Linked DNA regions of Homo sapiens: region 1 is linked to region 2. The links come from fine-mapping of genetic effects on plasma protein levels. Region 2 holds a variant in brackets. A gene starts in the other region. All regions are shown on their reverse strands.

Region 1 (2,904 bases), not on the chromosome of region 2:
GCCGCCCAGGCTGGAGTGCGGTGGCACAATCTCGGCTCACTGCAAGCTCCGCCTCCCACGTTCAAGGGATTCTCCTGCCTCAGCCTCCCGAGCAGCTGGGATTACAGGCATGCACCACCACACTCAGCTAATTTTTGTATTTTTAGTAGAGATGGGGTTTCACCATATTGACCAGGCTGGTCTTGAACTCCTGGCGTCAAGTGACTTGCCCGCCTCGGCCTCCCAAAGTGTTGGGATTACAGGCGTGAGCCACCGCGCCTGGCCCTGACTGCTTTTCTCTTGGTTTGTTTCTCAATCCCCCTTCCTCTGAGCCGAATTCCCTTTTTGTTCTCATTTTCTCTCTCTGTCCCCTCTCTCTCTCCTTCTTTCTCTCCTTCCATTCCTCCTAGATGAAGCAAAAACTCAGATAAACCAGCACAGAGGCCAGGTATGGTGGCTCACACCTGTAATCCCGGCACTTTGGGAAGCCAAGGCAGGCAGGTTGCTTGAGGCCAGGAGTTCAAGACCAGCCTGGCCCACATGGTGAAACCCCGTCTCTACTAAAAATACAAAAATTAGCCGGACATGGTGGCACGTGCCTGTAATCCCAGGTACTCAAGAGGTGGAGGTTGCAGTGAGCGGAGATCACAGCCCTGCACTCCAGCCTGGGTGACAGAGCGAGACTCCATCTCAAAACGAAAAACAAAAAACAGCACAAAGTTCCCTTGTCCTGTGACTCATTCTCTCTCTCTCTTTCTACCATTTCTCCTTCCCTGTGTCTTTTTTTTTTCTCTCTGTGGGTTTTATTTAAGCAATAGAAGTTCTTAGCAAAGAAAAACTTTATGGAATTAGATTGATCCACTTCATATGTACATATATGAACTCAGTTCAGAAACTCTCTTCTACCCCTGCCTGATCACCTATTTGGAAGTCTGTTCCTTCAACTCTTCTTCTCTTTCTGGGACTCTTTCTAGCTTGGGCTTCCTGCCCCTCCCGTCCACTCTCCTGCTTTCACAGCCTCTCCTTCCCCCTGCCCCTCCCCTGCACTGCATGGGGATGGGCCCCAGGTGTCCAAGGTCTCCCCACCCTCCTTTGTCACTGGAGTCAGGATTAGAACCCAGCTCCCTAGTCACCTTGAGTCATCAGTCCTGGGGCTGCTGACGGGCTTGCAGAGGAGAGAGGGAGTGGGGCTGGGTCTTCCCACCCTGGGTCCTTTCCTCCTTCCCCACTCCGTTTAGCTGTAAAGCTCAATTAAGTGTGATTAGCTGAGAAGAGTTTCTGCAGAATTAGAGCACGCCCCACCCCTGTCTTCGTGGTCCCCTTCCCTTAACCCGGAAACTGGATGGGCCAGGACAAAGAGAGTTAAGAGCTTTGTCAGTGGTCTGTCTGGAGCGACAGATGGAAGGAAAGGGACCGGTTGAGCAACATGACAGGTGGCTGAGGAGCCAGGTGCAGAGTGGTAGAGTTGGCTGGCGGAGTGGCCAGCACATGAGAAGACAGGCAGGTAGGTGGACGGAGAGATAGCAGCGACGAGGACAGGCCAAACAGTGACAGCCACGTAGAGGATCTGGCAGACAAAGAGACAAGGTGAGAAGGAGGTAGGCGACTGCCAATGAGGGAGTGACACACAGGGGAGCAGGTAGAGAGAGGACAAGCAGGTCATCCCCTTGGTGACCTTCAAAGAGAAGCAGAGAGGGCAGAGGTGGGGGGCACAGGGAAAGGGTGACCTCTGAGATTCCCCTTTTCCCCCAGACTTTGGAAGTGACCCACCATGGGGCTCAGCATCTTTTTGCTCCTGTGTGTTCTTGGTGAGTTCTCCCGGAGCAGGGAGAGGGCAGGACTGCGACTGGATCCCTTCACCCCCATGAGGAGGCCCCACCACCCTCCCCATCTCAGCTCTGGCCCCCAGCCTGGTGGTGAGGAGGAGAGGGGCTTTCTCTGTGCCTCCATTTACCTGCAGCTCTCAGGGTACTGCTCACCTCGGTCTCCCCTATTTTTTGATCCCTCTTCCCTTCTGTCCCTCTCTGAATCTCTGTCTCTCCATTTCCCTCCTATGTGTAAGCATCTTTCTCCCTGGGTGTCTTTGATGTTTCATGGTCTTTTTCTATCACTGGGTCTCTCTCTCTTTCTCTCTCTTTCTCGTCTCTCTTTCTCCTCTCTCTCTCCTGCCTGTTTCTCTCTCTCACTCTGTGTGTCTCTCCATCTCTGTATCTTTTCTTCCTCTCTCTGACCCATGCCCCTGTCTGTCTCCAGGGCTCAGCCAGGCAGCCACACCGAAGATTTTCAATGGCACTGAGTGTGGGCGTAACTCACAGCCGTGGCAGGTGGGGCTGTTTGAGGGCACCAGCCTGCGCTGCGGGGGTGTCCTTATTGACCACAGGTGGGTCCTCACAGCGGCTCACTGCAGCGGCAGGTAAGTCCCTTCCTGGGGTGGGCGAAGGGAGGACTATGGGAAGGCAAGCGCTGGGGGTAGGATCACAAGGGAGGGTGGTGCCCACTGGGAAGAAGCTGATCCTGCAACAAGAGAGTCTGAGGTTAGACCAGGAGTGGAACTTCCTTAGCAGTGGGCCTGGGGTGGTGCTGGGCAGGGTGAGGTATGTTGGGTGGAGGGCCGGGGAGGGTCCTGGAACCTGCCCTCCTGCCTCTCCCATTCCTGCATGTACCCTTTCTTTCCTATATGACATCTGCCACTCACCCCAGCCATTCCTTGACCCAGTCTGGGCCCGGGGCCCAGGTCTCACCCAAGCTCTTTTTCTTTTTCTTTTTTTTATTTTTTTGAGACAGGGTCTCGCTCTGTCGCCCAGGCTGCTGTGCAATGGCGTGATCACAGCTCACTGCTGTCTCTGCCTCCCAGGTTCAAGTGATTCTCCTGCCCCAGCCTCCTGAGTAGCTGGGATTACAGGCACCCGCCACCATGCCCAGCTA
Region 2 (2,862 bases):
GATTAGGGAGAGGAATGTGGACAGAGAAGCAGAGCAACGGAGACCGGGAAGTTTCCGTCTGTGTCCTGGATTGCAGCCAACTGCTTAGGCACACACACCTGCTGCCCTCCCGGCTCTGAGTCACCTCCTCTCCTCTCCCTGTCCAACGAGCAGCTGCCAAATGGCAGCCAAATCCAACAGATGTAAGCCGGGACCCCACCTGTGTTTGAATTACTTTCTTTGAAATCTGCCACGTCCAGGTTTATTGACCCGGGCAGTCTTTTCAACATTTCCTTATGCCGCATACGGGTGGGGCTAGGGACTTTCTTGTGCACTGGCAGTCCTCAGAAGAGAAAACTTTGAATTCAGCTATTTGGAACCTCGTTACTGGTTCCGAGCCTCAGGAAAGGCCAGAAGAGCGAGAGCCAGCCTAGTTAGTCACTCCCACATCTGTGACCCCCGTTTACGGGCCTTGTACGCTACTGCCCTTCAGGTACCATAAACCGGGCTTCTCAAAGGGCACTGCAACAGGTTTCCAGGAATTATTTATCAAAGTCCATGACCCCGGCCCTGTGACCCCTGGGTTTGAAAATTCAGACCTTCAGCCTAACGGAGAGGTCGGCTCAGCGTTCCTCCCAGCATCCTCGGGCGATATTAGGGTCCTGGGAGATTCGGGAGGCCACTGCGTCCAGGCCCCCCACGGCCAGCCAGGCGAGAGGCGGGACGCGAAGCCGCGGCCTCCTTCCTCTTCCCTGAGGCGGTGGCGGCGGCAGGCCCCGCCCCTCCCGCGCGGTGGCCGTCGGCGGAGGGGCGGGGCCTGCTACAGCGTCGCCGGCTGACGCGAATGACGCTGCGCCAGTCAGGCCGCAGCCCCGCTGCTTGGCCCGTCGGGCCCGCCTTGGCCGGCTCGGCCCGCCCCCGGCCCTCCCTGCACGGCCTCCCGTGCGCCCCTGTCAGACTGTGGCGGCCGGTCGCGCGGTGCGCTCTCCCTCCCTGCCCGCAGCCTGGAGAGGCGCTTCGTGCTGCACACCCCCGCGTTCCTGCCGGCACCGCGCCTGCCCTCTGCCGCGCTCCGCCCTGCCGCCGACCGCACGCCCGCCGCGGGACATGGCACACGCACCGGCACGCTGCCCCAGCGCCCGGGGCTCCGGGGACGGCGAGATGGGCAAGCCCAGGAACGTGGCGCTCATCACCGGTATCACAGGCCAGGTGAGTGCGGGGGCGGGGGCGCGCCGGCCGAGGCAGCCTGGGCACGCGTGCTCTCCCTACGCGCCGCTACTCGTGGGCTGCGGTCTCTCCAGGAACAGCCCTCTCGGCGTCCCGGAAGGGGTCTGCTGCCGGGAGGTGGGACGGAAGGTACGGTGCAGTTAGTGTGTTGCGTGTGGGGTGTGCGGGATACATCGAGCGCCTCTGGTCTT[T/C]CTCTGGGGGCTGTGAGCGTGTGTGCCGCGCGGGATGTCGCGCTCACACCCGGGCAGGACCGCCCGCTCTCACCTGCCCCTCAGGTGACCGCAGCGTCTCTTCCTCCAAGCCCATGTCGTGCTTCGCAGCTCCTAGTGCCGGAAAGGGAAAAGAACCGGTGATCAATGAACTTGCGGGTGAGGTCTTCTTGATGTGTCTCGGCTCAAGGGGCGCTTACCTGCTAACGTTTGGGAAGCAAGAAAAAGGGTGCTTTGCTGGTTTCGTCCCCTATCACCGGATTTCCAGATAGAAAAGAGAACATGAAAGAAAGTAATGCTGTGGAGTCACCTACTAGGACATGTTTAGGAAAAAGAACTTAAAAAACTTTTTAAAATCACGCCAACTTCTGAGATTCAGGTTGACACATTTGGAAGTGTATCCGAGGCACACTGGTCCAAAAGTGCGGCTAGTTCCATTTTCAAAGGAATAAGTTCGTCGAGTAAGGTAATCAAGAGGAGGTCTTCGGAATGTCTCAGGCTAAGCATGGCTGGTTTGTGAGGGTCGCCTCTTAGAGGTGTTGCAGTAGGTGGGATCCGACCGCTGTGTCTTACCAAGCTGTGCTGTTTTAGATTCAGTGGTCATGAAGTAATCGTGCCCACATATTGCTGTAGAAAGAATGTGATGTGTGTGCTCCTGGGTATCTCTGGGTGGTGGCCAATATAACACTGAGATAAAGGTGATAATGGCTAATACATATTGTGTCTATCATGTTCCAGTCGCTTGCCTAACATTAACTCATTTAGTTCTCATAACAAACTCTTTGAGGAGGTACTTTTATTATCTCTATATATGTGGAAACTGAGGCATGGGAGTTTGATTTGCCTGAGGTTAAACCGCTGGGAAGTGTCCAGTTGGTATTGAAACCACTCTCAAAGTTCTCTAGTGTTAGAAAGGGCTAAGTGGGCAGGAGGCAGCGGCTCATACTTGAAATCTCAGCACTTCGGTGTGCAGAGGTGGAAGGATTGCTCGAGGTGAGGCCAGGAGTTTGAGACCAGCCTGGGCAACATATTGAGACGTTGTCTCTACAAAAAAATTTAAAAAATGAGGCAGGCATGTTGGTGCTCACCTGTAGTGCTAGCTACTCAGGAGGCTGAGGCAGGAGGATCACTTGAGTCCGGGAGTCTGAGGCTGCTGCAGTGAGCAATGATGGTACCACTGTACTCCAGCCTGGGGCAAGAGAGTGAGATCCTGCCTCAAAAAAAAAAAAAAAAAAAAAAAAAAAAAAAAAGAAGGAGAAGTTGAAATTGGCCAGATGCACAGTCACAGAATATTACACAATTTCAAGTATTGAATACCTGATTTACTGCTGGTTATTCATGCATCTTGCTTTGCTTAAGGTAATCATAATAGACAAGAGTTTGAAAACTAGTAAGAGGTGGATCTGAGTTTGAAAACTAGTAAGAGGGCAAGGATCTGAGGTTGAGA

Direction of the effects. Alleles are on the strand shown, and positions count from the first base shown. The strength of an association depends on the size of the effect and on how common the allele is.
For the plasma level of the protein whose gene starts at base 1,370 in region 1, allele C in region 2 goes with a lower level than allele T (moderate association).

What was found. PIP is the chance, under the fine-mapping model, that this variant and not a neighbour inherited with it causes the effect. The UK Biobank Pharma Proteomics Project read protein levels with antibody pairs (Olink). The fine-mapping took linkage between variants from a reference panel, not from the people measured, so its PIPs are less certain.
Region 1: it holds the start of KLK12, and the variant in region 2 is fine-mapped to the plasma level of the KLK12 protein (UK Biobank, PIP above 0.99).

Annotation. Positions count from the first base shown.
Region 1 is chr19:51,033,468-51,036,371 of GRCh38, reverse strand. It overlaps KLK12 (kallikrein related peptidase 12), which reads left to right and starts at 1,370. Exons shown (of 6, transcript NM_001370125.1): 1 at 1,370-1,566; 2 at 1,732-1,787; 3 at 2,233-2,392. The coding sequence starts at 1,751.
Region 2 is chr6:2,243,647-2,246,508 of GRCh38, reverse strand. GMDS (GDP-mannose 4,6-dehydratase) reads left to right here and starts at 904. Exons shown (of 11, transcript NM_001500.4): 1 at 904-1,188. The coding sequence starts at 1,087. It overlaps GMDS-DT (GMDS divergent transcript), which reads right to left and starts at 756. Exons shown (of 7, transcript NR_046229.1): 1 at 579-756. RefSeq lists a silencer at 632-1,261 and an enhancer at 762-1,262. The variant T/C (reference allele first, on the strand shown) is at 1,398.